Linked DNA regions of Homo sapiens: region 2 is linked to region 1. The links come from fine-mapping of genetic effects on gene expression. A gene starts in region 1. The other region holds a variant in brackets. All regions are shown on one strand. Distances are between the middles of the regions. Region 1 holds the start of DGKE (diacylglycerol kinase epsilon). Region 2 overlaps C17orf67 (chromosome 17 open reading frame 67).

Region 1 (11,097 bases):
ATGCTTACTAATTACTCAGTATTACATTCTTCTTTAGAAATACCATATTCAAACCTGAATCCTATTGTCTTTACCTATGTTGTAATTGGTATTTAACAACCTAGATTTCAAACTCACTGGGAAGATAAGACATTACTAAAATGTCTTGGTATTTCAGCTTTAGCATCATGTCATTGGGTAACAGCTTATCATCTTTTTTCTTTTTATTTTGAAAAATTCCAAACTTTCAGAGAAGTCAAAAGGATAGCAAAATGAATACCCTAAGCCCACCCTTCACGCTGATTCTTAATGACATTTTCTCCCACAATATTCTCTTTCCATATAAATTCATATTTTTTTGATCATTTGAAAGTAAACTGCAGACAGTATGAGATCTCACCCTTCAATATTTTAGCAAATATATTCTAAAAGCAAGAATAGTTTACTTGCTTTTTAAAATATTTTACTTAAAAATATTTTTTACAGGTATGCCTACCACCTACATTCTACCATTAACATCTTACTGTAATTGCTTTGTCACATTTCTATCCATTAATTCATCTTATTTTTAGTACATTTCCAAGTAAACTGAAGACATCAGAATACTTCCTGAATACATCAGCAAATAGGCTTATCACTACCTAGAATTCATGATGTTTTTTCCTTTTCATGTAAAATTTACATACAATGAAATGTACGTATATACTTCCTGAGTTTTGATAAATGAACATACGTAACTAAAACCCTTATCAAGATATAGAACATTACTCTAGAAAGTTCCTTCATATGAAAATATGGAATGCCTCATGAATTTATATGCCGTTCTTGTGCAGTAGTATTTATAGAAAAAAAAAAGGTTTAACAAGGCTTGTTTTCTCTAAAAAATTACCTGGTCACAATAGCTCTCTTTTTTAGTGTGCTGAAGGAGGCAGCTGAATTATACATAAAGTTGAGATGGTCATTTATAAGATTCACTAGAACAGGGTTCTGCAAACTGCAAATATGTCTGCCATCTGATTTTGTGAATGAAGTTTTACTGGAACACAGGTAAGCTCATTCATTTATGTATTGTCCATGGCTGGTTTTGCACTGCAACTATGGCAGAGTTAAGTAATTATGACAGACGAAATGGTTGGGAAAGCCGAAAATTCTTTTGGCTCTTTACAGTAAGTTTGCCCACCTCTGCTCTAGAAGATGATTTGGTATCTTTCACTGTTTCAGATAATTAATGAAATGAATAAACACACACCAATAGAATATAGAAACAAAATTTATGATCAAAGCTGAGACTAGTTACACTGAGGCCAATCTAACTGCCTTCTGAGAGTCAGCAGCTTTGTTTTACTAATCACAGTAATTGTGTGTGAGGCGTGGGGTAGATGTAATGAATAAAAAGTCCAATAAATTAAAAAGCACTTTAAGTTCTTTTTCTCTTAATGAGATAGAACACTACAAGAAACAAAGGTTCATTTAATAAATATATTGAATATGTAAAAATATAACCTAATTCCCTATTTTAGTCAGAGGAGAGATAAGAAGAAGAAAAAGAAGATGTAGTGGTTGGGGGTAGAAACAGGAGCACACAAAAAGAAAAAATCTACAGACAAAGTAGACTCTAGCAGTGTCTAGAACAAAAATAGATGCTCAATAAGTATAATGATCGAATGAGTATAAATTAAAGGGCCTTTCTCACTTATTCTGCAGGCTTTAAACTCAGTCATCATCTCTCATTAGTGTCCTTTGAAATGTAACTTGTCTGCAGAGTTCACTCACTTCCCTAAGAATGAGATGCAGACAGGGAAGGAGCTCTCCTCAGGGCTAGATAAAATCCAGAGGACTGTCTGGTCTGTGTTTAAAGGTTCTAAGTAGCTATTTATTTTGTTTCTCCTTCCAAAATATCTCATTCCTACAGAAGGTCACAGGAGACTGTAATCCTGTATACAATTATTGGCCAACATAAATCAGTTCAGAACACTGTAGAATATGTACAACTTCAGGACACTGTGGTCTCTTCTCTTGGGAATAATAAACATCTCCTAAATTACACAGAGACAATTTCTATCATGGGGTAAGGGGTTACTCTGTAAAAATGCACTAATGAAGAAAAGAAGATTTATTATCACACAGATTCAGTGTGCTCAATGGGAGGATACAAAATTAAGAGACGGAGGTGCATGTTTTTAAAGATATGTAAATATAGCAGTGGTTCTCCATCTTTAGAAGGACCTGTAGGGCCTGTTAAAACCAAGACTGCTGATGTCCAGCCCAAGTTTCTGATTTAGTAGGTCTGGGGTTGGGCTAGGGTTGCCAGAAAAAAAAAACAAAAAAACGGCAATGCCTAGTTGAATTTGAATTTCAGAGAAACTTTTTATGTTCCAAATTCTGCAATATTTTATTTTTATCTGCTAAATCTAGCAACCCTAGAATTTGCATTTCTAACAGATTTTGAAGAGATGCTGATGCTGCTGGTCTAGGGACCTTACTTTGAGAACCACTGAGATATAGGATATTACGTTATCACCAAAAAGGAAAAACTGGGGGAGGAGGGAAGCTGAGTAGATCAGGTAAGAGTTCCTGAAGGAAAGGACAAGGACATGGGATGGGTCTTTAAGGGTGCCTAGAAGCTAGCCAGAAGAATACTGAGAGGAAAGCTTTGAGCAAAGGGGCAGAAATGTCAGAAAATGCCTGACGTTTTAAGGAAATTACAAGAAGCTTAGTGTTGCTGGTGCATAAAGTTTAATGCAGGTGGTGGTAGATAAAACTAAAAGGACAGAGGCCAGAAAGTACTAGGACCTTATGTACCCTGTGAAAAAGCACTTAGGGGTTTACACTGTAAAACAGTCAGCTTACCCGATGGGGAGCAATTTAAAGGATTTTAAGCAGAGCAGGGACTTGATCAGATTTGCATTTTTAGAAAGATCATTTGGGTGGAGGATCAGAAGCATGATTATGTGTTCAAGAGTATTTGAAATACGGTTATTTATGGAAACCATTTTTAATATAATTCTGCACAGACACAGACTGCTGGAGGCTACACCAGAGAAGGGAAGGAAATAGAACAATACTCAATTCATTATGAAATTTATTTAAAGTCCCTGCTAACTTGGCTCTCACTGATGCCAGAAGGACAGCATTTAATTTTTAAAGATACCAAATAAAAATGCATGGTTACAAAACTTTGTAGTTGTCTAGAATACATTATTTTGAACATTTATTCTTAAGCCTCTTTGATAATGTGTAAAATTATTTAAAATAAGACTTAAAAACAGGTATTGACATTATAATAGCGTTCATGCTAATGAAAGAATTTCTGCAAAAAAAATTAAAAAAATTAAAAAGCAGCTTCCTATTTACTGCCTATTTCATTTCTTAAGCATGTTTATGCGCCTTTCTACTTGTCAGAAATAAAACCCATTACAATGAAGATGTCCAGACTTAAGGCTCAAAGGAGGCTAAGTGTTAGTCCAGAGCTGGAAATCCTGGAGGCCAGTCCTATTTTACCAGAGTGGACCTAACGGGCTTTAATTTTCTCAACTGTGAACTGAGTTAGAATAGATCATTTGCAAAGCAGCATTCTCCTTTACCAATTTCCAACATCAGCAAAGGACATCTTCACCTATTTTCAAACAATATTTAAGGACAAAAATGTGTTGTCCAGTGTGTATATAAAAGACATTAAAATATTCTTGGCTTAATCAAGGTCACTTATCTAAGATTCTACATGTCCTGAAAGACCAAGCGTCAAAAGGAATATTCCTTTCAGTGTTCTTTTTGAGTATATTTCGCTATGGTACCAACAGCTATATTAGCAAAAGACATAAAAGTGCTGCCTTGGAATGACACTTGTTTTCACTGCACATTCATAGTACAAAACCTGTGACCCATCAGTTTTGCGGCTGAAGGGAAAAGTTAATTTGTCCATATTTCATTTTTCCTTATTTAAAATAAGGAGATAATCGATAGGAACAAAAGCTAAAATATACAGTGGCCATGAAGCAGGCACCACTTAGAAACCTCTGTATTAACGTTAGGAGCCAAGTTTTATTACCCAAAAGGGCAGGCTGGCTGAGGAGTGGAGGCTGGATGCATCGTCTCAGCAAATGACTACTGCAAAGCTGCCACGCTTGCACAAACTCAGGGATGTTTATTTATTAGCTTGTTTCCTCAAAATGAGTTTAGGTCATCAGCAGAGATTAAAGCAGGCCTCTACACCACTCTATGAAATCCTGATTCCCACGGCGCATTCTGGGACAGTGAGTGTCCACGAAGACCATACCTGTAATCGCAAAGCTTGGGTTGACAGCCACACTGCTGCTTGCAAACCATACAGTAACTGCACAGGGGCACGTTGCCCCGGATCCAGTGGTGGGGCATGGCGTCCAGGACCTTGGTGTCATTCTTGAGCATAATCTCCTTGCACTGGAAGCGCTTGTCGGCCTTCCTGAGGCAGCCCTCGTCCACGCGGAGCCCGCAGCAGTCGCAGAAGGCGCCCTGCAGAATGTGCTGCGCGCACACGCAGCAGTAGGTGGGCTGGCTGAACAGGTCCGTGTCGCGCCACCCGTGCTTGCTCTTGCGGAAGATGTCCCTGCGGTGCAGCTGCCGGCGCGACCGCTGGAGGCTACACCAGAAGGTGATGAACACCGGCAGCAGGACCGAGCACAGCGTCCACAAGATCAGGTGCCCGTCCGCAAACAGGCCCTCGGAGGGCGAGCCCGGCGCCGGCCGCCTCTCCGCTTCCATCTTCTCCAAGGACGATACCTAACCAGAAAAGAAACAGGCGGTGCACCCCGAGCTCGCCATCCCTTCCCCGCCCCCTTCCTGCCTTTCCGGGGCCAAACCGGGCGCCCTCAGTGAAGGTGGCTCCGCTCTCCCGAGGGCGGGACTGCGCCTCGTCCCCCCGTCTCCCGGGACCTGCCGCGCCGAGAAGGCGACGTCCAGCCATCACGCTCCAATCCCCACTCCCCAACCCGCCCCACCTCGGGAGCGCGTCCAGGAGCCCAAGGCGGCTGCTGCTGCCGCCGCCGCCTCACCTTGCCGCCGGTCTGACCCACGGAAGGGCGCAACATACAGGGGCAAGCTGCCCTCCACCGAAAGGCCGGGCGTTCAGGCCAGGCAACGCCGGTCGGCGCCCGTAACCGTCGGCCCAGGCCTCGCACTCCCCTCCGGGGCGCCGTCTCCTCCCGGGCCCCACCCGCTCCCACGCGCGGCCCGGCGACCCTAGCCCCTCTCGGGAGGCCTCCGGAGACCTGCGCCGCGCCGGTCCTCGAAGCCCTACCTCGCGCGGGTGGAGGCGCGGCTCCGGGCCAGCAGGCCTTGGCCGCCTCGCGCAGGAGGAGAACGACGCTGGGCCGCCAGCAGGGATGAAGCCGGGCGGGGGAAACGCTTAAGGCTCCAGCCGCACGCACGCCGATCCGGCGCGCGGGGCCGCGAGCTGGAGGCGGGGCCTGTGGCGGCGAGCCCCGTGGCTGGGCGGAGCCAGGGCTGACGGGCGGGGCGGAGGTGTGAGGTGGGAGGGGAGACGGACCGGCCTGAGGGGGCGGGGCCGTGGAGGAGGCTGGAGACGGATGGAAGAGGCAGGGCACTGCGGCTGGGGGCGGGGCCTAGGGGAAGGGGGCGGAGTAACAGTGGGGCGTTTGAGAGGATGGAGGGTTGAATGCCAAAACTTCGTAATCGTAGAAAATTCTGGAAAGCCGCCGGCGGGGCAAGGCCACGAGGATCCTCCTCGCAGCACCGCGCCGCGCGGGGCCCAGGGGCCGCGCTCACGCCCGCCGCTCGGCGCAGACACGAGTGCCCCCGACTTGAGCCGAACCTCTAGCCGATGCCGGCGCCGCCGCCGCCGGGGATGCGTAAGCCGACTGGGAAGCGAGGGGGGGAGGCGGCCTGCGCGGCACCGCCCGACCTGGCCGCGGCGGGCTGAGGTAGGTGTGGCGGCCGCAGTAACGCAAACCTGAGGGCTCCTCCGCTGCGGAGCGGCGGGCGGGCGCGGAGGCCGAGGGCGAGCGGGGCAGCCGCCCGCTCGTCGCCGCTGACCCCGAGCCCGGCCGCGGTTTCCGCCCCCTGCCGTGGCGGGCGGGCCTCCCCTGCGCTACCCCCTCGCCCGCGCCCGCCAGCGCCCGAGGCCGGGGAGAAAGGGGAGCAGCGGGAGCCGGGGACTACCGGAGATGGGAGCACGCCTCCTGCTGCTGTCGTCCAGCCCCAGGTTCCGGAGGAATGCTCGCTCCCCGCTGGAGTCCTACCAGCCCAACACGGACCTGAGCCGCGACCACGCGGGCTGCAGCCTGCAGCACATCAGCTACCCGGAGAACGCGGACGCGGAAGCACCGCTGCTCAGCACCCCCGAAGAAACACGGAATCCAGAGAGGCACAGGCACCGCCCCGGCGCGCACAGCTGCACTCAGCGGCTTCCTTCCTACTACATACATACATAGGAGTGGGAGCCGAGGACCACTTGTTGCTTGCGGACTTCCTCTAGCATAAAAGATGGAAAGAAAACACACACCGAAGCAAGGGACCAAAGGAACAGAAAAGAAACGCAGAGATCATAGGAAAACTGCAAAGAAATACTTGATAATATCTTCCAAACGATTAGAGAAGACATAACATTCATTAAGAATACACATATAGATGTATATATACGTGTATGTGTGTATGTATATATTATTATGTGTGCATATATATGCATGTGTATGTGCGTATATTTGTATTAACTGTAGAAGATAAAGCTAGACACTAGTAAAAGTGGTAAAGCAGATTTTAATAATATACTATTGTAATAGGGAAGAAGGTACCTCGTGAACGGAACTGAACTTTGTGCAGAAGTGACTAGGTGTTTAAGAGGGAGGAGGAGGGAATGTGAAGGGGATGAGCAGGAACTCAGTAGTCAGGAAAGTGAAACTTGTGAAGGGTGGGTCAGTGTAAGTAAGGTTAGGCGACAGTGCCTGTTAGATGGCTGTTATGGGAGTCAGGGTCCTATCCTCCCACAGTAACTGGGAGATAGGCCCTTTGCTTCCTGGTGATTGCATGTTGGAGGAATGGCTTTCAGGTTCTTGAGAAGGATACTCCTGATGTGTAGGAGACATTACATCCCAGAGAGACAGAGGAAGGATTCACAATTGTTTAGTTTTTTGTTGTTGTTGTTAACTCTTTAAGAAAGGGACATCAGGGGCTGCTTGTAAGGTGTTGGCAATAGCCAACAGTGAGTTCTTTTGGCAGCTTTCCCAGGAAGATACTTTAGGGGGTCTGGGGTCATCCTATGGATGCAGCTTTGAGCAGTTAAAAACTATGTGTTTAGGCCGGGCGCTGTGGCTCACGCCTGTAACCCCAACACTTTGGGAGGCCGAGGCAGGTGCATCACGGGGTCAGGAATTCAAGATCAGCCTGGTCAAGATGGTGAAACCCCGTCTCTACTAAAAATACAAAAAATTAGCTGGGCATCGTGGTGAGTGCCTGTAGTCCCAGCTACTTGGGAGGCTTGAGGCAGAGAATTGCTTAACCCAGGAGGCGGAGGTTGCAGTGAGCTGAGATCGCACCAATGTATTCCAGCCGGGGCGACAGAGCGAAACTCCGTCTCAAAAAAAAAGAAAGAAAAAGAAACTGTGTGTTTAAGCGTTTTGATATAGGGGGAAGGATGGACCCGATCCTTTTTGCTGAAGTCTGCAGATTTCATAGGCCAAGGTGGAGGCCTAGTTGAAAAGGGGGCTCAGGGAAGCCTGGCTAGAGCTTGGTCAAGGAGGGGATCTTCATCAGTCGTACGTATGTACATGGCACGTGGACCTGCATAGACACGTGTTTGGTGGAGGCTGTCTTATACGGATTCTGCACAACTCAAGTCCCCTAATGGGAACAGACTTGGGGAGGTCACTCTTGAGGCTTTTTGTGGTATTGTGGCTACTGGGAGACCTGAGGAGGGTTCTGGTCACTAGCAGACTCATTTCATTCACCCCTTGGAATCTGCCCAGGACTTGGACTTCTGTGTAATAGTAACTTCACGCCCCAATGATCCTCCACGTTCCTTGCTGATGCTGTGATTGCTCCTCCAAGTTCTCCACCTATGTCCATCTGAGCACTTGGTATTTCTACTCTAGTGTCAAAAGGTCCTGTTCCCAAGTCTCCTCCCAAACATTTATTCCAATTTATCATCCAGATGCCCGTCCTTTGCCATCCCTCTCTGTTCCAGCAAAGGACACCACCCCTCAGGGAGATGCTCACAGTGGACTCCTTGTCCTCATCCTGACTCCCCTTTTCTCTGGCACCCGCAGGCCTCAGTGAGTCTCTCGGTCTCTGGCAGCAGCACAGGTCCTGGACTCGAGCCCATCTCTCCATCCCCCCCTCCACTACTCCCCTGGTCCAGCTGTCACCATTCTCACCCTTGAATGACTGTCACAGCCTCCCACCTGGTCTTCCTGCTTTACTATGTTCCCTGCAGGCTGCCTCTGAACTTTTATATTGAAATGAAACTCTTACTGTGGGGAAAACCCCTCCATTCTCAGACCCCTGGTACCCTTCACTCATTTACCACTCTGGCCATCGTTCACTGAGTTCAGGCCACTCTGGCCTCTGCATGGTCCTCACGCCCACCAGACTCATGCCCCCTTCAGGGCTATTGTCAGTTCTACCCCCTTTTCCTACAAAGTTCTTCCCTATGTCTTCGTTGCCCAGGTGCTCCCTCCCGACAGAGGCCTTGCTGACCACCCCTACCAAGATTGCCCCACATTTATGTAAATCCAGTCTGTTTAACTATTAGGGTGAGTGACCTCCATTCATACTTGATAAATAATTTACAGTTATCTAAATACAGTGCCTGACTCAACATAAAGACACAGAGGAAGTTTAAATGGAAAGTTTAATTCAGGTTACTTTTGTCAGGTATCTCTCTTACATACCAAAATAAAAATGTATAAATACAAAAAAAAAATTAGCCAGGCGTGGTGGCTAATTGAGAGGAGATGGGGAAAAGTGATGTGGGGTTCCCCAATGTTGTCCAAGGGGATTTCTTCTTAGAAATCTCTCCCTACATCACTCTTGTAGTGAAATAAAACCATCTCCATGTAATTTATTAATTTTGTTTTTTGAAAAATATCCACTATTTGAATCTAAATATTATAGAAATTTCTCTTTAAACATTCCCTTTTACTTTATCCCAAAATAAATCTCCCTTTGCATAAATTTTTTCTTTTTCTTTTTTTTTTTTTGAGACGGAGTCTCGCTCTGTCACCCAGACTGGAGTGCAGTGGTGCGATCTTGGCTCACTGCAAGCTCCGCCTCCCAGGTTCACGCCATTCTCTTGCCTCAGCCTCCCGAGTAGCTGGGACTACAGGTGCCCGCCACCACGCCCGGCTAATTTTTTTTGTGTTTTTAGTGGAGACGGGATTTCACCATGTTAGCGAGGATGGTCCTGATCTCCTGACCTCATGATCCGCCTGCCTCAGCCTCCCAAAGTGCTGGGATTACAGGTGTGAGCCACCACGCCCGGCCAAATTTTTCAACAAATACATACTCAAGCCAAAAAATGGTGCTTTAACTTATGACTTAAAATTGTTGGGACTATAACTCTAGAAAAAATATTGCAGTTGAGTACCGAAAGTATTGATAAATGAAATCTGTTTTCAAAGTGCAATAATTTTGTAGAGGATAAAATAGAAATTGTTCACCTAGGAGATTAATACATAAATAATATTTACAGAGCATTGTCTTGAGAAATGCAGTTTGATGATGTTTCAGTTTGAGCAAAAGATGAGGCTCTAAAGTATGGCATTTCTTTTGCTGCTAATGAGAGAGAATCCAGACTTTGCTGATGTGCTCCAGGGTCTCCTGTATTCTTTAGATTTGGAGGAATCAACCATGAAGGAGCTGGCTGCAGTGTCAGAAGGGGAAGGTGGAAACTTCAACACAAAAAGGGGCTCCCCTAGATCCACTGGCCTCAGGGACCCTCGGATGGAGTCAACATGGGAGAACCTGGCCTGGCAGCTCTGGAGGCCTGAGTGGAGGGGAGAGAACAGCGCTGCCCTAAGACCCAAGCCCTCCTGGGGAAGGGAGCAGCAGGGCTTGGCTCTTGGCTGCCTGGCTGGTGTGGAAAAGCTCCTTGTGATGGGGTGACTCCCATGGCCTCTTCCAGGGACTCCAGCATAGATAACGTCTCTGCCAGCCCTTCTTGTTGCTTAGAGAGTCTGGATCTCTCTTCTTTTTTCTTTTCTTCTTTAAACCTCTCTTCTTTGAGTTCTTGAACCAGGGATGTGATTTTTATTTTATTTTATTTTTTTGCAATGGAGTCTTGCTCTTGTTGCCCAGGCTGGAGTGTAATGGTGCGATCTCAGCTCACTGCAATCTCCACCTCCCAGGTTCAAGCAATTCTCCTGCTCCAGCCTGCTGAGTAGCTGGGATTACAGGCGCCCGCCACCATGCCTGGCTAATTTTTGTATTGTTAGTAGAGATGGGTTTCACTGCTGGCCAGGCTGGTCTTGAACTCCTGACTCAGGTGATCTGTCCACCTCGGCCTCCCAAAGTGTTGAAATTACAGGTGTGAGCAGCTGTGCCCCGCTGGGATGTGAATTTCTGCATCAGCATTGCGTTGGTGCTGTTCACCTTATAAGCATCTACAAAACTGGGGATGTTTAAATACTTTTTCATACACCGACATCCTCTAAGGATCCCTCAATCTCTGCAGTGTTTTTTTTTTTTTTTTTGTCATCACTGTGCTTGCCTGTGAGTTGGCATTTCTCCTCCATGTGTGAATCCAGTGTTTCTGCAAGCTGCTTTTCGTATGTTACATGGAGTCGATTCCTAACAGGTTGACTAAGGAAATGAAAGCCACGAAAGTTAGGATAGTAGTTCCCTGTGATGGGGGAGAAGGTGTACCAAACAACTGGGCACACCAGAGCTCCCAATCTTCAATATGTTAACCTGGGTAGTGGGTACACAGGTGTTTGTTTAATTTTTATGTTAGAAACTATGTATATATGGTTTATAAACTCTTCTGTATGTGTGACAGATTTCAAAATATAAACAACATCAAAAAAGTTTTGAATAAAGAATTACCTAGGGAACTTGTTAAGAAGGCGGATTCCTAGTTGCATTTCATATTCTGATTCCAGAGACCTGGTCAGGACCACAGAATCCACA
Region 2 (11,097 bases), 35 kb after region 1:
AATTTCTCTTAATCTACTCAAATTTTAGGAAAGAGGTTGTTTGCCAATTGCTCGGGTGAGCTGTGGAAATTCTTTAAAAAGATGAATGTCTTGAAGCTTGAATAAAGCTTGAATGTCTTCAAGCTTAAATTATTTCTTTTGTGATTATATTTGTAAGTGCTTGTGAAACCTGGGAATACACTTTTCTTGGAAGTGTTCCATTTTGGCCTGTGATCCTTTAAGGAGTGTTCTTGTTGGGCAAATATAAATCATTTTAGCTTTATTGTAAGTAGTCTTTGTAAAATATGCTTTCATGTTTAGCTCTTTGACAAATGTATGTAGTAACTCCATTACCCTTTTGTTCCCCATTACCTCAAAGGCCAGTTTGGAGTGACCGAGGTGTAAATTGCCCACAGCACTGTTCTGCCTTTCTTTAGGACGGAGCCTTCAGTATTCCAGTGCAGTTAAGTTCTGAGCCACCATTCTATATATAGGATTACCTTGCTTGTACTAATGAGCAAAATAATTTTTCCAAATGCTGATGGATCTTTAATTCTGCAAAAATGTCACAGGAAGTATTTTGCCTTCTTGGAAAAAGGTCCTGCCTTGATAGAATAACTGTCCACTTTATGATTCTCAGCATAGGTCAAGTTCTGGTGGGTATTTAAGTTCATTATCACACCACTCCAGAGCCATAATAAAGGACTACTTTTAATTTCTGCTCTAATTACTGAGAAATAATTTACTTAAATCATTATAGTTGGCATTTGACATGGAACACAGATACTGGTTTTTGTTTTGCTTTGATTTACACCCCCCCACTTGGAGAAAGGAATCTGAAGAAATTAAAACTCATTTTCCATATACCCCTTCTTCCTTGGTCCAGGAACATTTGAGATTATCCTTAATGTTGGGCCATTTCTAACTCAGCCAGTGCAATTGTTGAATTTGTGGTTTTCAGCAGATTTGCAATTTGCCTTTTGATTTGACTAATGATTGCTTTTTAAGCCTTTGTGGCATATTCGTTTTCCTAATATTTTAAATAAATAGTGAAATGTCATGGAAACCAGTGCTCATTTCTTTCTTATTCTCAGTGTGTGTCTGTTTTGGTTGTTTTTCTTCAATGATTATTTCAGTTGGTGTTTAGGAGTGTGAAATATATATTACTTTTTGGTGCTTTTAATGTACATTTGGCCTAGGCTGTTATAATGAGCAGACTGACACAGATATCAAGAAAATTTCCAAGGAGGATTTAGCAAGATTATAGGGAAAGAACAGTTATTTCATTTATTCATTTGCTCCTTTATACATTTTTCCAGTGAGCTTTGTTGTGGTCCTACTGTGTGCCAAGCACTAAATCACAGACCAGATATACTTTGGTCACTGCCATAAAAAAACTGGGTGGATATTTGGCTGAGAGGGACAGAGATTAAATGAGTAAAGATGCAAATGAGTATATAATTATAAAAGGTACTGTGTATCAGTAGTGACATTCGTTAATATCACCAGTGATCTCATTATAAAAGTCTTTAAGTATTGGGAAGTTGCCAGCCTTCTGTAGCAGATGTAAGTTTTCCAAAATCTGGTTTCCTCTGGGAAGTTCTATTTAATAAATACTGTAAATTGTTTTTCTTGAGGTGACAGGCTCACTTCATTCATTGTCAAGATGTCTGCCCAACATGCACATAAAACATGCATAGCCAGTTCAACACCAGCAATTGCACACATGCTTTTCCTTGTGAAACCCCATTGCACTTTGTCATACAGCAGAAGTACTGCCTGCATATGCCCTTTTGGGTCACTCTATACTGTTTCACCAGGGCATTCTTCAGGGCAACTGGCATTTTAAGAATGTTTTATTTTTATTTTCGTACTGTAAGTGCGTGGTGGGGAAGGATACGATGACCGCTAATAGAATTGGGTACCACTGCCTGGATTCCTGCTAAGGCGCCAGTCATTTTACCTGCCACTGCCTTGGCACATCAGTGAAAATGCCAATACAGCAGGAAGACAAATAATGTCTGAGTATTATTCTAAAAATAGTTTGGCCTTATGGGCCTCTGAGGGGAGCACAGCTCACGCTTTGAAGAATGATGCTGTAGTCTTTTCTTCAACAAGCCTTTACGGAAAGTTTCCTGTGTACCAGTTCCTGGGAAAGATGCTCTCCTTCACAATCTTGATGTGTACTCAGATCTTTGTTATCTAATAGTAGCCAAAGTTAACAGCTAGCATTTAATGCATTCTTACTATGTGCCAAGAATCATGTGCCAAGGCCCTGTAGTATTGGGATCCCAGCAGGAGACTGGGTACCTGAAGAGTGTTTAATAAAGAGACTTTTTACAAAGGCGTGGGCAGGATTAAGGCAAACCAACAAGAAATAATAAAAGATCAGGGTTAACAACCTCTAGACCATAAAGGGGTAAGGGAGGCAGACGGTTCCCGGAGCTGGAGAGGACAGCCTCCTAGGAGCTGTGGCCTTCAGGAGAGGGATGCAGCCAATTGCTGAGGTGAACTGTGGAAATTCTTTAAAAAGATGACATTCAAGCTGAAATGATTTCTTTTGAGATTGTATTTATGCTTGGTGTGGCTGTGACTCCTTGGTGAGGAACTAGGGGATTGAATACCCTGGCCTCTCCCTCCTCCTACCTTCTAATCCGTTCTGGTGTCTCCCACTGATGAAACTCAACCAGAAGCCACAGGCCAAGGGAGTCTACGGCGACAATTAATCTGGGTCCCACGGCCAGGCGAAAAGGGAGACAGACAGGATCTGGAGGGACAAATGCAGGCTACTTATTTGGCACAAAACTTTATTTGCACCATTTCATTTAGTATCTAACCCAAGGAAGCAAGTTAACTAACTTAAGGAAGCAAGTGCTAGTGCAATCCCCATCTTGCAGATGAACAAACTGAGGCTGGAGAGGTAAAGCAATAATGACAGGGTCCAGGTTTGAAGGAGACTCAGACTCTTAGCTTCTATTCCTCCCTGTCTGGCAAACAGGCCAGCAAGAAGCAGGCAGCAGGGGTTCCTTCAGTGTGCTGCTTCCACAGAATAGTTGAACAAGTAAAGTTATATGCTGGGAACTTGTTGTTCCTTATTTACAAGACTGCACACGGCCTTCCTGTTCCTCCCAATTACTATTCTTCTGGCCAAAGACTCCCTGGATAGGGAAGGAACTCAGCCCCAAATCCGCAAACATGTTCAGAAAGCAGCCAGGGAATCACTGTTGGATCCCACAAGGAGCCCTCTCACCATCTGCCCTCTACCCCAGCTGACCCAGAGACTCCCTGCCAGAACACTGAGTGTATTTTGATGAGTTAAATGAAAACAACAACCATAACCAAAACAAATCCAAACTGCATGGGTCTTGGGGGAAAGAAAAAAAAAATCAGAAAAATTGGACACTTCATAATTCCTTCCTTTGCACATTCTTTTTCTTTTTAAATGAGTACATTTGATGTAGAATGCAGAGTTCCTAGAGGGTGTTCTAAAAACTTAAAAACTTAGAGTTCTATAGTGGACCCGACCCTTTGTTAAAGCCTTCTTAATGCCATAGGAAGGTTTCCATGATTTAGAGTTTTTATGATATTGATACATGCCAAAAACAATTTAATCACATCACAAATATGACTGAGTATGTCTACTCTTTCCTAAGGTGAAATGCCACTTCTCTGATTATTGGCCTGCTGTTTGTATGGACCTGTTCTATGCATACTTTGTAATGGTTCACATCCTATAATTACAGCACCAACATTTCCTTCAGGGCAATATAAAAAACACACTCCAAGTTAAAAATCATTCCCATCTCTATCCATTCTCTTTGGAGGGAACATAAAAGAACAAGTTTTTTGTTTTGAGTTTTGTTTGAGCCTCACCCTGTTGCCTGCGCTGGAGTGCGGTGGCACGATCATAGCTCACTGAAGCCTCAAACTCCTGGGCTTAAGTAATTCTCTCGCCTTAGCCTCCTGAGTAGCAAGGACTACAAGTGTGCACCACCACACCCAGCTGGAACATCCAATTTTGATACCAATATATGAGCGAACCCACCTACGACCTCCACTAAACAGTATGAGGCAGGCCAATGAAGTCCCCACTCTCAGGGAGAGCTCACTGCCACACAGAATGACCAGGGAGGGCTATGCTGGGAAAAGTCTATGGAGCTTTGGAGACCCAGAGAAGTGGGGTCACAGGGAATCTGAGAAGGCTTCCTAGAGGAAGTAACATCTAAGCTGAGGCCTGAAAAGTCAGGTAAGAGTGAGATGGGAAAATAAGAAGGTACAGGGGTGTTCTAGGCAGAGCAAACAACAGGTGCTTTGGAAGCCTTAGAAAGAACAGCAAGCATGGCCCGTTCAGGGAAAGATGGAGAACAAAGCTCAAGTGTATTGATGGTGAGAGAAGAGGCTCAGGAGATGGGTGTAGCTGGGTCATGGAAAGACCTTAGCCATATTAAGGAATCAGAACTTTCTCCTGAGACCAGTGGGAGGCATACAGACATTTTAAGTGAAGAAGCAACGTGGGTAAATTAAAAAAATATATCACTTTGCTGCCGGGCGCAGTGGCTCACGCCTGTAATCCCAGCACTTTGGGAGGCTGAGGCGGGTGGATCACGAGGTCAGGAGATTGAGACCATCCTGGCTAACACGGTGAAACCCCGTCTCTACTAAAAATTCAAAAAATTAGCCGGGTGTGATGGTGGGTGCCTGTAGTTCCAGCTACTCGGGAGGCTAAGGCAGGAGAATGGCGTGAACCCGGGAAGCGGAGCTTGCAGTGAGCCGCGATGGCGCCACTGCACTCCAGCCTGGGCGACAGAGCGAGACTCCGTCTCAAAAAAAAAAAAAAAAAAAAAAAAATTAGTTTGCAACAGGATACAGAAAAATCAAGAGGGATTTTTCAACCTCTTCTTTATAACTTTCTTTTTTTTTTTCATGACTTTAAGAAAGTAATATGTATCACTGTTGTGATAAAAATAAAAACCAGTAAAGCTATTTTTGTTCTTTATATTTTAAAAACCCATTCTGACAAAAGACTTGAATAGACATCTACTGAAGAAGATATACAGATGGCAAGTAAGCATGTGAAACATCGTACATCATTAGGGAAATGCAACTTAAAACAACGAGATGCCACTATACACCTATTAGAATGGCCAAAATCTGGAACATGGACAACACCAAATGCTGGTGAGGATGTGAAGCAACAGAACTCTCACTCATTGCTGGTGGAAATGCAAAATGGTGCAGCTACTTTGGAAGACAGTTTGGCAGTTTCTTACAAAACCAGACGTACTCTTAACATACGATTCAATAATCACACTCCCTGGTGTTTACCCAAAGGAGTTGAAAACTTACATCCACACAAAACCTGCCCCCAGATGTTTATAGCAATTTTATTCATAATTACTCCAA[T/C]TTGGAAGCAACCAAGATGTCCAGGTGAATGAATAAATAAACTATGATACATGCAGACAATGGAATATTATTCAACCCTAAAACAAAATGAGCTATCAAGCCACGGAAAGACATGGAGTTAAACTTAAATGCATATTACTAAAGAAAAGAAACCAATCTGAAAATTCAATTACATGTTCTGTGATTCTAACTGTATGACATTCTGGGAAAGGCAAAACTATAGAGACAGTATAAAGATCAGTGGTTGCCAGGGGTTAGGCAGATGAGCAGGCAGAGCAAAGCAGATTTTTAGGGCAGTGAAACTGTTCCGTGTGATATTGCAATGGTAGTGCTAGGGTTTGTGTGTGGTTTGTTCGGCCCCATCAAGTCTCATGTTGAAATTTGATCCCCAGTGTTGGAGGTGTGGCCTTATGGGAGGTGTTTGGGTCATGGAGGTGGATCCCTCATGAATAGCGGTAATGAGGGAGTTTTCACTCTTAGTTCCCATGAGAACGGATTTCTGCAAAGAGCCTGGCACCTTCTCTCTTTCTTGCCTCCTGTCTCACCATGTGATCTGTGTATATCAGCTCCCCTTCACCTTCTGCCATGAGTGGAAACTTCCTGAGGCCCTCATCAGAAGGAGATGTTGGTGCCATGCTTTTATTTTTATTTGTGTTTATTTATCTTTTTTGAGACAAAGGCTCGTACTGTCTCCGAGGGCTGGAGTGCCATGGTGCGATCTCAGCTCACTGCAACCTCTACCTCCTGGGCTCAAGAGATCCTCTCACCTCAGCTTCCTGAGTAGCTGGGACTACAGGCATGCACCACCACATCTAGCTATTTTTTTTTTTGTATTTTTGGTAGAGACAGAGTTTCACCACGTCGCCCAGGCTGGTCTCGAACTCCAGAGCTTGAGTGATCTGCCCACCTCAGCCTCCCAAATTGCTGGGATTACAGATGTGAGCCATGATGCCCGACTGCCATGCATTTGTGTAATACCAAGAGTGAGCCCTAATATCAACTATGGACTGGTGATGGTGCTGTGTCAATGCAGGTGCATCAACTGTAAAAAATATCCCATGCTGGTGGGGGATGTTGGTAGTGGGGGAGGCTGTGCCTGTGTGAAGACAGGGGATATATGGGAATGCTATATTTCTGCTCAATTTTGCTGTGAACCTAAAACTGCTGTAAACAATAATGCCTATTAAGAAAACAAAATAAAACAATAAAAAAAACCCCACAAGAAGAAGAAGGTAGGACAAGGGGTAGTAAGAGCCTGCAGAGGTTGTGGCAGGGGTCTAGCCCCAGGGCTGGGGCCTAAGCTGGGCAGAGGCAGTCGGGCTGGGTAGAAGGGATTCAGGAGCATTCACAGGAGTTAGGCTGCTTAGATGGTGGGAGGGCAAGGAAGAGGAGTGCGCTGAAGCTTCTTGCTTAACTAGCAATGTGGTGCCATGAAGAGAGATATGATGAACCACCTTCAGTATGATAGGCAGTACCTGTAGGCCAGAGATTGCACTAGAAGATGGAGAGGGAAGGAGGAGAGCTTATAACTGACTAAGACAAGAGAAATCACATTTTATTCTTTTATTTAAGAGAGGTCCTGTTGTTTTATCATTTTTCTGTTTTATGCATCACTTATAGGACATAATGCCATGAGTAACCCATATACAGAAAATTCACAGCCTGAACTGGCTTCGGGGAAGACCAAGGCGCATTTGGAGGAGAAGGCCAGCCCTAAAGGCTGGAAGTGACATTCCTGTTGATAAAGGGCAGAGCACGAGCCAACTGAGAGAGGAGATGCAAAGACAAAAATTTCATGCAAAGGATGGGTGTGTTCAGAGGCTGATGAGCTGCAGGTTGCAGAGAGGCCCTATCATGGCCCTCTGTTATTTGTGCTGTCTGCTCCCTTCTCTGGTGGTAGCACACCTGCCACTCCTCATCATCCTGGTATGGACGCGGTTTTTCTCTGCCCTGACCCCAGTCCGTTCTCCACCCTGCTGTGCCCCACTCTGTGCTCAAGGAGACTGACTCCTGCAGACTGAATCCCTTGGTTCCCTGGCCAGCTGGCTTCTGATTGGGCCCTGCAGGATATTGAGGGGAAGAGGAGGGAGAGGATGGGCTGTTTGTTCCCTGTTCCCTCCTTGCCTTGCAAAGGTTGTGCTGTGCCCCCAAGACCACAGCAGCCCCACCCACCTGGCCCCAGGCCTAATGGCTCCTCTAAGGGTTCTCCACCCTTGGCCCTGCAAACTTAGACATGGTCATGACTTCCCTCTATTGCTAGTCCCTGGGTGCTAGAATATTCTTTGATAGTTCCCTTAACCCTACTCACATGGCTATGAATGTTCCCTTCATTAAAGTCTCTTCAGGCAACCATTTCAGGGAGAAATTGCGTTTTTGAGAAGCATAGAGATTAACAAAGGCTGTCAATGACCATTGTAGACCAAGGTGGGAGGGCAGGGCCACTCCCTGCTGTTGGGAGGAGTGGGGGAAGGAGGGGAATCCTACCCAAAGCTGCACTCATCTGCTGGCTTGCAAGTACATTATCCAGAGCCACAGACAAAACCCGTGGGTAGAGGCAGATGCTGACTCCTTGCAGGTAGACAGCACTGGTGAAGGCTTCGAGGAGGAAGGTGGCCCTGGTGGGCCACCTTTGACCCCTTTTGGGTCACTCTGTCAGAGTGGAGCAGGGATGGGGGAGGGAGGAGGCATGGGGTGGGAGGAATGCAACACGCAGGGGTGGGACAGAGAGAGGGGTGAGGAGTCTGCGGCAGCCTTGGTGGACAATGGTGAAGACCTGACCTAGGGAAGTGGCAGAGACGAGGGAGGGCATCTGAGAACTATTCCGGAGATAGCCTCAACGTCCCGATGCTCAGTCTTATGTTGAGTTTGAGGGTGAGTGAGGCAATGACAGTTGGTGTTCTGGAGCGGGTTCCTGAGTAGATGGAGATGCTGGCCACAGTAAGGGGCAGGACTGGTCAGGGCAAGGAGCTGCTTTCTGTTGTGGACAGATTAATGTATGGGGCTGGCCACCTTTCATATGAACAGAATCATACACCGTGTGGTCCTTTGTGACATAAGTGTCCTAAGTGGCTTCTGTCACTTAGCATAATGTTCTCAAGGTTCATCCATGTTGTAGCAGGGATCACTGCTTCATTCATTTTAATTGCCAAATAATATTCCATTATATGGAAGTAGCATATTTTATTTATCCACTCATTTATTGGTGGACATTTGGGTTGCTTCTGGTTTTTGGCTGTGACAAATGATGTTGGTGTGAACATCTGTATACAAGTTTTTGTGTGGACATCCATTTTTGTTTCTCTTGGGTATATACCTACAAGTACAGTTGCTAGCCAGGAGTACGAATGGTAATTCTAGGTTTAATATTGTAAGGAACTGCCAGACTATTTTTACAAAATGCTTCTCTATTTCTAGTAACATTTTTATATTTTAAAGTCTTTTTGTTTGATATTAGCATAGCAACCCTAGCTTTCTTCTGCTTATCCCTTGTCTTTTAAAAAAGATGATTTTATCAGAAATGCATATAGCCATAAGTAATATATTACATGATTTAGTTACACATATTTGAACTTTATAAAAATAGTGTCACACTATAAATGTAGTTACTTGGACTTTTCACTCAGTATGCTATTTCTAAGACCCATCTATGTTGTTGTATATAGCTACAGTATAATTTATGTTCTCTGCTGTATAATAGTCCATGGCATAACCCTAACATAATTTATTGATTCATTCTCCTGTAAGTGGCTATTTGGCATGTTTCCAGTGTTTTGCTATGACAAATTTATTGCTGCTATAAACATTTTTATATGCCTTTCCTGATATAAGAGTTTCTTTTGTTCTCAGAGCAACTAGCAATATAACTATTAGCTAGGAACTTGTTAGAAATGCAACTTCTCAAGTCCCACCCAAGACCCACTGAGTCAGAAACTGTAAGATAGGCCCAGCAATCTGTGTTGTAATATCAGATATCAGGTGACTCTGATATCTGATAAAGTTTGACGTCCACTGCGCTAGGGTATAAAGTAGGAGTGAAATTTCTAGATTGCAGGCAATCAGATGTTTTCTGAAGTTGTTGTCCCATGTTTTCATGGAAATCCACCCGCTCAGCACTTAGTATTGTCAGACTTCTTTATTTTGCCCACTGGGTGGGTCAGTCTGACTGGTCTTCCCTACAGAGAGGCATGGGTGTGGCCGTTGATTTCTTCTCCCTGCCTGTCCTCCCATCCTGCCCTGTCTAGGGAGCCAGAGCCACACCACGCATATTGATCCCTTGGCTGTCACTGTGGGTGAAGCCTTCTTCAGTGTGGTTTGTTTTGACAGGAATACATGCACCACCTGCTCGCCCTGGAGCATCGCGCTGAGGAGCAGTTCCTGGAGCACTGGCTGAACCCTCACTGCAAACCCCACTGTGACAGGAACAGGATTCATCCTGTGTAAGGGGATCAGGACCAGCCTCGGTACGTCTCCTTCTCTCTCCCGGACCTCTGTCTGAGGGAGTGGTGGGGGACAGCATGGCATGGGCTGGGAGACTTTCCAGACCATGCCTCAGGGGGGCCAGCTGGTTAGCTGGTTATGGGTTTGGAATGGGGGTGGCAAGAGTGAGGCAGGAGACATAGTGGGGAGCCAGGTTGAGAGGAGCACTGGGGGACAAATGGGGGAGCCCAACTTTTATTGAATCACAAAGTGATCCCGAATGGGGAGGGACGTGACCCTATTTGCCATGCAGAAAAGCTCTCTCTGGACCCCAAATGTGGAGAAGTGTGTTTTGTTGAGACTTGGGTCTCTTCAGGTGGGCTCAGCATTCGTGGAGTCAACCTGTGACATCTACCATGATCATCACCACTGTCATCAGGATCAACAACTTCTTTCCCAGATCTCGCTCCTGTTCCCTACTGCCTTCCTGCAGCCTTCAAGGCTGCCAATCTGCCCAGCCCACCCTCTGTCTTTCCCTTTCCCTGGGGCTTCTGTTTTCAGCCCACCAGCAGGGTACTGCCCAGCTTTCCCCCCACACCCTGCATGCCCCCAACTCTGTACCTCTGTGCCTAGATGAGGCTGTTTGCTTCTCCCTGTCTGTCCTCATCATCTTCCCCCCTTTCCAAATCCTGTTAGATAAGGTAGCAAAATTCCTTCAGAGGGTAAGCCCAGTGAATTTCATTTCTCCTCTGTAAGTTTTGTGGACCAAGCAGGACAAGATATAATCAGGTAGTTTATCTTTGTGGTTAAGAGAAATCTTATACCTTTGTTGTTTATTTTGTGCTACTGTGAATTGACACAGGGACGCTCCTATTAATCACTCTTTATAATGTAACATAAATTGCCTCACATGATCCTCTTAATACCCTGGTGTCATTGCAGGGCATGCACTTTAACCCCATTTTAAAGAGGAACTAATTGAGCATGATTAAGCTACTAACTCAGGCTAAGCAGTGGTTGGTATGCTAGGCTTCTGACCACCGTAAATCTGCATGCTTTATGTGGACCGTGTTGCACAGTCCTGTGTGTGTGTGGGCATGAAATCACTCTGAGGGAGCTTTCACAGATAATGAGAGGATCACCTGCTGGCAGTGGAATAGAAGTTCTGCTTTTGAGGGGTAGGGATGGGCTACATCCCTCTTCTAATTCTTCCAGCTGCTGGAGCTCTATTCTAGGTCAGGGTTCTGGTGTGTCTGGGCTTGGCTCCCAACTCCCAGGGTGCTGGCCTCCCCTGCACCA

Evidence for each region. PIP is the estimated chance that this variant, and not a neighbour inherited with it, causes the effect. A credible set is the group of variants that fine-mapping cannot tell apart.
Region 2: its variant is the best candidate, but not a certain one, in a credible set for the expression of DGKE in whole blood (INTERVAL, PIP 0.55).

The regions. Positions count from the first base shown.
Region 1 is chr17:56,828,418-56,839,514 of GRCh38, reverse strand. DGKE (diacylglycerol kinase epsilon) reads right to left here and starts at 5,364. Exons shown (of 12, transcript NM_003647.3): 1 at 5,255-5,364; 2 at 4,256-4,737. The coding sequence starts at 4,719. It overlaps C17orf67 (chromosome 17 open reading frame 67), which reads left to right and starts at 5,595. Exons shown (of 8, transcript NM_001085430.4): 1 at 5,595-5,897; 2 at 6,173-6,617. It overlaps LOC124904036 (a long non-coding RNA gene), which reads left to right. Exons shown (of 3, transcript XR_007065857.1): 3 at 895-3,155. RefSeq lists enhancers at 1,465-2,020, 3,911-4,508, 4,240-4,639, 5,108-5,705 and silencers at 5,030-6,099, 6,073-6,367.
Region 2 is chr17:56,793,789-56,804,885 of GRCh38, reverse strand. C17orf67 (chromosome 17 open reading frame 67) reads left to right here. Exons shown (of 8, transcript NM_001085430.4): 7 at 9,706-9,842. The coding sequence ends at 9,822. Among named protein-coding and RNA genes, the nearest start is that of C17orf67, 35 kb to the left of the region's middle. The variant T/C (reference allele first, on the strand shown) is at 5,383.